Regions from separate parts of the Homo sapiens genome. Here region 2 is linked to region 1. Evidence: fine-mapped expression QTL. A gene starts in region 1. The other region holds a variant in brackets. All regions are shown on one strand. Distances are between the middles of the regions.

Region 1 (5,379 bases):
TGAGGTACTTAACCTCCTCTCTTGTGGACAAATGTCTGCCTCCTAATCAAGTGCCACCACTTTCTCCTTCTTCCAAGGCTCATTCACCATGGCTTCCAGAATAAGCGTTTTAAAACCCAAATCTGAGGATGGCTCCCTGCAGTCCGCAGAATTCTCTTCCAAATCTGGCCTCACTGACTTTTCTAGCCGCCTCTCCTACTACTCCCCACACACATCTCGACATTGCAATCACAAGAGTTCATTTTTTTTCCTGAATACATCATGCTTTGGTTCTACTTTTCTCTCTATCTGGAGGAGCCTTCTTTCCTCTCCCCCTGGCAATACTTAGGGCAGGCTTCAATATTACCTCTTCTTTGAAGTCTAATTTCTCTGAGATAAAGCTAGAGTCTCCCTCCTTTGTGCTCCCGCAGCCCTAAGTATATGCCCTTGCAGTAGCCCTTACTACAGTAACTCTTAACAGCAAAGCAAGACAAAGCAAAGACGTTAGTCGAGCATTTAATTACTTGTACAAGAACTGGAATGCAGTAGGTATGCAATACATGTTTGTCAAATAGTTTTAGAAAGTGCTATGATGAAGCGACATAACCAAAGACATAACGCAATTATTTTGATTTCAAGTCCAGCGCTCTTCCGAGTAACTAGGAAAAATGAGGGGAACTGTGTAGGCAGAATGCTGTGGAGGGGTGGAAATCTGAGGTCCCCAAGAGTCTCTAAGTGTCTCTTTAGATCGAATCGAAGGTCTTTTAAACAACAGATATACCAGATATAATGCACAACTCTTTCTCCCCCCACCCCCAATACAGTGGGACTAATAACAGCATCTACCTGACAAGATATTATGAAGATTAGGGCAAATGCGTTAATAAATGCAAACTGCTTAAAATAGTGCCTGGAAGTATGTGCTGGCTATCATCATCATCATCATCGTCACCATCACCACCACCAAACAAGCCTGGAACGCTCCAAGCCCAAGTGTACACTTGGACACATGGCACTCTGGCATTCCGAAAAATACTCATTTTCTTTGTAAACCTGGCAGACTAGCCAGAGGGTCCCCCCCCCGCCCCCACACACACACAGAAAGGGCCAGGCAGCCCCTGCTGGCGACGTGGCAACCTCACATCCTGAAAGAGAGCTGCTGAATCAAACAGCAGGAAAAGCACCACTGGAAAACCAACCGGAAGGGAGATATTGTAGACCGCTACTAGCTTCTCACTCGGACACTTACAATGACATCAGAATGGGAGACCCAAACTGCCGCTTTAATTCCTTCCAGGAGATTTCCCAGGGAACAAAATGGCCATGAGTTTTGCTTGGCCTGTGCCCTAACCCCAGGCTGGACCTTTGGGGTTAGCATCTGCCCATGCGAACTGGGCGAGGAAGGTCTCCTGCCAGGGAGCAGCTCTCCCCGGCTCCGAGGAGAGCTCCCCAGCCAGGAGGCCACTTTCCCCTCCCTGCGGACACTTCCCCGATCCCCCAAGCTCCTCAGGTCCCCTGCAACACTCCTCTCCCCAGAAGGACCCCGGCCGCCTGGTTCCAGGCAGGTCTGCACCTTGAAGTAGGCGACCTGCAGGTAGTTGTAGGGGCTCCGCTTGCGGAACTCCAGCTCCATCTCTTCGCTGAGCGAGTGGGCGGCCGGCGGCCCGAGGCAGCGGCGCAGGCAGGCAGCGCGACGCAGAAGGCCCCCGAAGAAGCTCAGGTCGCGCAGGGCGGCGGCGCCCGAGGCCTGGGCCGGGCTGGGGGACCAGTCGGGGTCCAGCTCCCACGGGAAGTCGGCGGCACACTGGGTGCGGCAGCGCAGGCGAAGGGCGCGGAGGGCTGCCCGGGAGCGCAGCGCCCGTTCCATGCTCAGGACCACCCCGGGCCAGTCCCCGCGCGCGTAGGCTGCGGTCCCCTCGGCGAAGAGCAGATCAGGCGTCACCATGCCCCATCCTGCCTCGGACTCGACCTCGGCTTGGGAGGCAGCGGCCACGACAGCCAGCAGTGTGGTCAGCAGCTTCAACGCGCGTACCGCCATCGCTCCCTCAGACCTAACGGAACCGCCAGCCACCCGCCACCAAGGCCGGAGTCCTACCCCCGGCGAAGGCCCGCCCCCGGGCGAAGCCCCACCTTCCAAGCCGGGCGGCGCATGCCCACGAGGCTTGCACCGCCTCTTTTCCTTTCAGTCAGCCCGGATCCCCCCACCGGCCCTCAGCGAATCCCGGCGCGTCAGCCGGAGCCCCGCCTCCGAGCTCAGGCCTTGCTCAGTCGAACTGACGCCCAGTAGACAAGAAAGACGGAAGCTCCGCCCACGCGCCTTTATGCGCAGGCTCTTCCTACTCGCACAGCCCAGGGAGTGGGGAGGATAAGGCGCTGTCATGGAGGACGCCGCCGCGCCGGGGCGGACCGAGGGGGTCCTTGAAAGGCAAGGAGCGCCGCCAGCTGCAGGCCAGGGAGGTATGCGGGGCGGGAGTCAGCAGGGGGAAGTCAGCTCCCGCGAGGCAGCCGGTCTCGGGGCTCCGCGGGAGGCCGACGGCGGGAGCTCACGGCTTGTGTTCCTGGGTGTGTGTCGCAGGAGCCCTGGTGGAGCTCACCCCGACCCCCGGCGGCCTGGCCCTGGTGAGCCCCTACCACACCCACCGGGCCGGGGACCCCTTAGACCTCGTGGCGCTCGCAGAGCAGGTGCAGAAGGTGAGGAGGCGCGGCCGGGGCAGCGAATAACCATCTTCGTTCACGTTGTACTCTGCGTCTTTCGGCTCAGACCTCACTACCACCTATGGTGGGGGTGGCATTTGCTCTTGTCTCCATTTTACAGACGAGTAAAGCCGACTGTCATTGTGAGTCGGTGGCCTGATTCGAATGACCTTCTGGGACCAAAGGTTCCTCTAACTGCAACTTGAGTGCCCATAATCTTCCTTCGTGGGAAGGTTTACACAACACTTTAGTGTTCATTATTTCATTTGCACCTTAGGACAGCCTTGTGAGGTAGGCAGTACAGAGTTATTCTTCCCATTTGACACAAAGAAAAGTTCTTCGGGAAGTTTCAAGGTCCGCTTATTTTAAGCTGCTTCCCATAAGATCTTTGTTACCTGAGAGTTTAAACATCTTCTAGCAGGGCAAGGACTCCAAGTTTAGTCCTCATTAAACACAGTATTCCCAAGCCCAGTGTTTATATATGGATGGCCAAAATAAGTCAAATAAGGAGGAAATGTGAAATAATGGAAAAAACACTGGAAGTTTGGACACATGAGTATTAATCCCACTTTTGATACTAACTTGCAGTGCGACTTAAGGCAGATTACTTCTCTCTGGACCTCAACTATTTTATCTGTGAAGTGAAAGGTTTGAAGTAGTAGAGCTCCAAGATCTAAAGTTTTGTCATTATTCAATGAAAAACCAGATTCCTTCTTATCTCTTATCAAGACTTCCAGTTGTACACCCTCTTCAGTGTCCACAGATGGAGGGTCCTGCTGTTTTAAAGATTATCATGGCCCCTTATCCCTGTATACACTATCAGATTTGGCCTTGATTATGTTCCAGGGTCTTTGCTTTGCCCAAAATTATTTAATGTGCTCAAATTCCCTCACATCTCTTTTTTTTTCAATGATCCTAGAAATCCTTCGAATCCTTTTTTTTTTAAAATTAAGAAAAATTCAGATACGCAGAAAGCTCCTTTAATTCAAAACTTGGCTTTCTTCTTTTTGAAGAGCTGGGGAGCAAAGTGCAACTTTTATTTATTAAGAGAATATGCATCTAGTTAATCAGATTACTCTTATTGGGAGGGAGGTTGGCAGGGACAGAATCTTGTGCACACAACGTATTCATGTGCTATTGAATGACTATCGTGTTTATTACGATGGCCTGAACAGATGGAAGAAAGAACACAGTTTTTGTCTTTCATCCTATAATCTTATGAAATACAGAGGATGCATTATTATGCTGCCTCTGTTTCCCCAATACAATCTGTATTTGAGAAGCTGAAGAAAAAAAAAACTTTAGAGACAAACAAATTGAATCAAACATATTAACTATCTAAAATGTACTTTTTGGCCAGGTGCCGTGGCTCACACTTGTAATCCCAGCACTTTGGGAGGCCAAGGTGGGTGGATCATTTGAAGTCAGGAGTTCGAGACCAGTCTGGCCAACATGGTGAAACCCCGTCTCTACTAAAAGGTGTGGTGACTCATGCCTGTAGTCTCAGCTACTCGGGAGGCTGAGGCATGAGAATCGCTTGAGCCCAGGAGACAGAGGTTGCAGTGAGCCGAGATCGCACCACTGTACTCCAGAATTGGTGACAGAGTGAGACTCTTAAAAAAAAACAAAAAAATGAGGCTGGGTGTGGTGGCTCACGCCTGTAATCTTAGCACTTTGGGAGGCTAAGGCGGGAGGATTGCCTGAGCTCAGGAGTTGGAGACCAACCTGGGCGACATGTGAAACCCTGTCTCTACTAAAATACAAAAAATTAGCCGGGCATGGTGGTGTGTGCCTGTAGTCCGAAGCTACTCTGGAGGCTGAGGCGGGAGAACTGCTTGAACCTGGGAGGCAGAGGTTGCAGTGAGCTGAGATCACACCACTGCACTCCAGCCTGGGTGACAGAGCAAGTCTAAAAAGAAAAAAAAATGGTGGTGGGCTGGGTGCAGTGGCTCACGCTTGTAATCCGAGCACTTTGGGAGGCCAAGGCGGGTGGATCACGAGATCAGGAATTCAAGACCAGCCTGGCCAACATAGTGAAACCCTGTCTCTACTAAAAATACAAAAAATTAGCCGGGCATGGTGGCAGACGCCCGTAATTCCAGCTACTCATGAGGCTGAGGCCGGAGAATCACTTGAACCTGGGAGGCAGATGTTGCAGTGAGTGGAGATTGTGCCACTTCACTCCAGCCTGGGTGACAAAGTAAGACTCCGTCTCAAAAAAAAAAGTACTTTTTTAGCAAGACTGACCCAGGTATTGGTGTGTGTTCAGAAAGCTCAGGAGGCCTGGTATTAAGGCATGAATTTTGGAATCTGACCTGTGTTCAGATCCTTTGCTGTTTATTATCTGTGAAACCTTGGACAGGTTGCCTCATGTCTGTGAGTCTTAATTGCTAAAATGAGAAAGTGAGGTTATCATCTCCAGCGTCATAAAGGTGTTGTGAGAAGTAAATGAGATGAATGTAAAGGGCCTCAGAGTAGTTGAGGCCAGGGTTAGTGCTTAGTAGTTGTAGGTACTCTTCCCTTCCTTTCTTTTTTATGAGGCTCTTTTGTTTTTAAGTTGTTCGTGAAATATTTTGCATTTTTTTTGTTTGTTTCTTTTTTCCTTTTTTTGGACCTCAGACTAATCCATATTTTGCATTTTATATTAACTCTTCAAAATATAAATTCAAATTTTGTTTATGAGATTTATTGCTAACACCTTAAGAA
Region 2 (5,379 bases), 120 kb before region 1:
AGTAGAGACGGGGTTTCTCCATGTTGGTCAGGCTGGTCTGGAACTCCCGACCTCAGGTGATCCACCCGCCTCAGCCTCCGAAAGTGCTGGGATTATAGGCATAAGCCACCATGCCTGGCCTTAAGAGGGAAGTTTATAACAACAAACACCTATATCAAAAAAGTGGAAAGACTTCAAATAACCTGAAGATGCACCTCAAGAAACTAGAAAAGCAAGAACAAACCAAACCCAAAATTGATACAAGGAAAGAAATAATAAAGATTAGAGCAGGCCGGGCGCAGTGGCTCACACCTATAATCCCAGCACTTTGGGAGGCCAAGGCAGGCGGATCACAAGGTCAGGAGATTGAGACCATCCTGGTTAACACAGTGAAACCCTGTCTCTACTAAAAATACAAAAAATTAGCTGGGCGTGGTGGCATGCACCTGTAATCCCAGCTACTTGGGAGGCTGAGGCAGCAGAATCACTTGAACTTGGGAGGTGGAGGTTGCAGTGAGCCGAGATCACGCCACTGCTCTCCAGCCTGGGTGACAGAGCAAGACTCTGTCTCAAAACAAAACAAACAAACAAAAAAGATTAGAGCAGAAATAAATGAAATTGAGATTAAAAGAACAATATAGAAGATCAATGAAACAAAAAGTTGGGTTTTTTTTTAAGATAAACAAAATCAACAAATCTTTAGCTGGACAAACTAAGAAAAAAAGAGAGAAGACCCAAATAAATAAATCAGAAATGAAAAAGGAGACATAACAACTGAGATCTCAGAAATACAAAGAATCATTAGAGACTATTATGAATAACCATATGCCAACAAATAGGAAAACCTAGAAGAAATGGATAAATTTCTAGAAACATACAACCTACCAAGATTGAACCATGAAGAAATAGAAAACTTCAACAAACGAATAATGAATCATATGATCAAAGCCATAATAAAAAGTCTTCCATCAAAGAAAAGATCAGAACCTGCTGGATTCACTCCTGAAGTCCACCAAATATTTAAAGAAGGAATACCAATCTTACTCAAACTCTTCAAAAAAAATAAAGAGGAGGGAATACTAACAAACTCATTAAATGAGGCCAGCATTACCCAGATGCCAAAACCAGGCAAGACTATAAAAAGATCATTCACCATGATCAAGTGAGATTTGTCCCAGGAATACAAGGATGGCTCAACATATGCAAATCAATAAACATGATACACCACATTAATAGAATGAAGGACAAAAACCATATGATCATCTTATTACATACAGAAAAAGCATCTGACAAAATTCAAATCCTTTCATGATAAAAACTCTCAAAAGATTAGGTTTAGGAGGAATGTACCTCAATACAATAAAGGCCATATATGACAAGCCCACAGCTAACATTATACTCAATGGAGAAAAGTTGGAAGCTTTTTCTCAAAGATCAAGAACAAGACAAGGATGCCCACGCTCACCACTTCTATTTCATATATACTGGAAATCTTTGCCAGAGCAATTAGGCAAGAGAAAGAAATAAAAGGCATCCAAATAGGAAAGGAAACTGAAATTGTGTCTACTTGTTGACATGATCTTATATATAGAAATCCCTAAAAACTGTTAGAACTAAGAAGCAAATATAGTAAAGTTGAAGGATACAAAATCAACACACCAAAATCAACACACCAAAATCAGTAGTGCTTCTATACACCAATAACACATTATCCAAAAAAGAAATAAAGAAAATAATACCATTTACAATAACTTCAAAAGAAATAAACTACTCAGGAATAAATTTAACCAAAGAGGTGAAAGATCCGTATACTTAAAACTACAAAACTTTGATGAAATAAATTGAAGAAAATACGATAAATGAAAAGATATTAATGTTCATGAATCGAAAGAATTAATATTGCTAAAATGCCCATACCACCCAAAGCAATCTATAGGTTCAGTGCAATACCTATCAAAATTCCAATGTCATTTTTCGTAGAAATAGAAAAAACAGTCCTAAAATTCATGTGGAACTACAAAACCCCCAAATAGCCAAGGCAATATTCAGCAGAAAGAACAAAGCTGGAGGCCTCATACTACCTGATTTCAAACTATATTACAGGTTGGGCACGGTGGCTCAGGCTTGTAATCCCAGCACTGTGGGAGGCTGAGGGGGGCAGATTGCTTGGGCCCAGGAGTTTGAGACCAGCTTGTACCCAGGAGTTCAAGACCAACATTGCAAAACCCTATCTCTACAAAAAAGTAAAAAATTAGCTGGGCATAGTAATCTCAGCTACTTGGGAGGCTGAGGCAAGAGGATTGCTTGAGCCCAGGTGGTAGAGGTTGCAGTGAGCCATGATTGTGCCACTGCACTCCAGCCTGGGTAACAGAACAAGACCCTGTCTAAAAA[A/AAT]ATATATATGTGTGTGTGTGTGTGTGTGTGTGTGTGTGTGTGTGTGTGTGTATAACAGAACTACAGTAATTAAAACAACATGGGACTGGCATTAAAACAGACACATTGACAAAATGAAACAGCATAGAGAGCTTAAAAACAAACCCACACATTTAAAATTGATTTTTCTTTTTCTGCTGCCCAGGCTGGAGAGCAGTGGCAATCACAGCTCACTGCAGCCTCAACTTCCTGGGCTCAAGCAATCCTCCCACCTCAGCCTTCCAAGTAGCTGGAACCATAGGTGCACGCCATCACACTCAGCTAATTCTTTAAATTTTTTGTAGCGATGGGGTCTTGTCATGTTGCCCAGGCTGGTCTCAAACTCCTGGGCTTAAGCAATGCTTCTGCCTTGGCCTCCCAAAATGCTGGGATTATAGGTGTCAGACACCACACCTGGCCTACAGTCAGTTAATTTTTTGACAAAGGATGAAAATGACATTGAGAAAAGGACAGTCCCTTCAACAAAACGGTATTGAGAAAACTGGATATCTATGTGCAGAAGAATGAAAGTGGACCGTTACCTAACACCACATTAAAAAATCAACTCCAAATGGATTAAAGACTTAAAGACAAGACCTGAAATTGTAAAACTACTAGAAGAACACTACATAGGGGAAAAACTACATGATATTGACCTGGACAACAATTTTTCCAATGTGACACGAAAAGCTCAGGGAACAAAAACAAACATATACAAATGGGATGGGATTATATCAAACTAAAAAGCTTCTGCACAGCAAAAGAAACAATTAACAGAGTGAAGAGGCAACCTATGGATTGGGAGAAAATATCTGTAAGCTACACATCTGATAAGGGATTAATATCCAAAATATATAAGGATCTCAACTCAATAGCAAGAACACAACCCAATTAAAAAGTAGGCAAAGGGCCTGAATAGACATTTCTCAAAAAAAGACATACAAATGGACAACAGATATATGAAAAAAAAAAAGCTCAACATCATGAATCGTTATGGAAATGCACATTAAAACCACAATGGGATATCACCTCACACCTGTCAAAATGACTGTTATCAAAAAGATGAAAGATAAGGGCCAGGCATGGTAGCCCAAACCTGTAATCCCAGCAGTTTGGGAGGCTGAGGTGGAAAGATTGCTTGAGGTCAGGAGTTCCAGACCAGCCTGGGCAACACAGCAAGACCCTGTATCTACAAAAAAAAATTTTTTTTGTTTTAATTAGTTGGGTGTGGTGGTGTGCACCTGTGGTTGTAGCTTCTCAGGAGGCTGAGGTGTGAGGATTCCTTAAGCCCAGGAGGTCAAGGCTGCAGTGAACTATGTTCATGCTACTGCACTCCAGCCTGGGTGACAGAGCAACACCCTATCTCAACAAACCAAAAATATGAAAGATAATGTGTTGGCAAGGATGTGGAGAAAAGGGAAACCTTGTACACTGTTGTTTGGAATATAAATTAGTACAGCAATTATGGAAAACTGTGGAGTTTCCCCAACAAAGTGAAAATAGAACTACCATATGATCCAGCAATCTTACTTCTGGGTATACATCCAAAGGATTTGAAGTCAGTATGTGATATACACTATGGTGTGTGAAAATGTGGTATATATATATGATACAATACTATTTAACCTTAAAAAGGAGGGAAATTCTGTCATTGGCAACAACATTGGTGAACCTGGAGGATATTATGCTAAGTGAAAAAAGCCTGGCACAGAAAAACAAATACCACATCTTCTCACTTAAATGTGGAATCTAAAACAATTGAACACATGTAAGCATAGAGCAAAATGCTGGTTACCAGAGGCTGAGGGGTGAGGAGGCAATGGGGAGATGTTGGCCAAAGGTGCAATGTTTCAGTTAGACCGGAGGAGTAAGTATTTGAGGTGATGGATATGTTAATTACCTCAATTCAATCATTCCATATTATATATCATAGCATCACTTTGTACACCGTAAGTATAGGCACTTATAATTTGTCAATATTCAATAGTATAAATAAAAATTTGAAAAAACTTTCTGACCATCACAATATCCAAGAGAAATAAAAATATATGTCCTACCAGAAACTTGTAGATAAATATTCATAGCAGCATTATTCATAATAACTAAAAAGTGAAAACAACCCACTCTCCATCCCCTGATGAATGGATAAACAAAATGTGTTTTATCCAAACACTGGAATATTATTCAGCCATAAAAGACATAAACTATTGATACTTACTCTAACATAATGAAGCTTGAAAACATGATAATATTTTAAAGAAGGCAGACATAAAAGGCCACATATTGTATGATTCTATTTATATGAAACATCCAGAATAAGGAAATCCATAAAGACAGAAAGTATATTAGTGATTGCCAAGGATTTGGGGGAGGAATAAATGGGGAGTAGACTGCTCCTGGGTATGGGCTTTTTTGGGGGGTGATGAAAATATTCTGGAATTAGACAGTGGTGATGGTTGCATAAGTGTGTGAGTACATTAGAAAGCACTGAATTGAACCCGTTAAAAGGGAAAACTTTATAGTATGTGAATTACTTCTCAACAAAGCAGTTATTTTAAAAATAAAATTTTCTGCAATATCTCCAAAATTTATATAACAAAAGAAGCAAGGTGAAGATAGTATGTATAGTACCATGTGTGTAAAACTAGATAGACAGATATAGATAGATCGTCTATAGATAAATATAGATAGGTTATATATATAGAGAGAGAGAGGGCAACCAGCTTTTCATTCTGTACCCTTTTATGTTTTTCATTGTTTGTACTATGTGCAGGTATTGTATCTATTATATATATATTTTTTTCTAGGATCATATAGCTAATGGTTTATCATTATAACTTTTCACATTCATCCTTTCTTTCCTTTTAGGAAACAACAATTAGTGACATCCTTGAATCCGAAGTAGTGAATGAAATATTGCCTTTATCAAACTCCAGGTTAGTAAAGTCAAGACAAATAAAGTCAAGTCTATCTGAGATGGACTGTCAGCCA

Alleles and levels. Alleles are on the strand shown, and positions count from the first base shown. SD is a standard deviation of normalised expression in the study named.
As copies of AAT replace A in region 2, the expression in transverse colon of the gene that starts at base 2,295 in region 1 goes down (moderate effect, 0.67 SD a copy in CEDAR).

The links. PIP is the estimated chance that this variant, and not a neighbour inherited with it, causes the effect.
Region 2: its variant is fine-mapped to the expression of C1orf50 in transverse colon (CEDAR, PIP 0.94).

The regions. Positions count from the first base shown.
Region 1 is chr1:42,764,955-42,770,333 of GRCh38, forward strand. C1orf50 (chromosome 1 open reading frame 50) reads left to right here and starts at 2,295. Exons shown (of 5, transcript NM_024097.4): 1 at 2,295-2,436; 2 at 2,555-2,670. The coding sequence starts at 2,358. It overlaps P3H1 (prolyl 3-hydroxylase 1), which reads right to left and starts at 2,074. Exons shown (of 15, transcript NM_022356.4): 1 at 1,553-2,074. The coding sequence starts at 2,017. RefSeq lists an enhancer at 1,333-1,452 and silencers at 1,713-1,822, 2,443-2,582.
Region 2 is chr1:42,648,120-42,653,498 of GRCh38, forward strand. It overlaps CCDC30 (coiled-coil domain containing 30), which reads left to right. Exons shown (of 21, transcript NM_001395517.1): 20 at 5,257-5,324. All of the region lies in intron 1 of LOC124904162 (a long non-coding RNA gene), which reads right to left. Among named protein-coding and RNA genes, the nearest start is that of PPIH, 7.6 kb to the right of the region's middle. The variant A/AAT (reference allele first, on the strand shown) is at 2,371.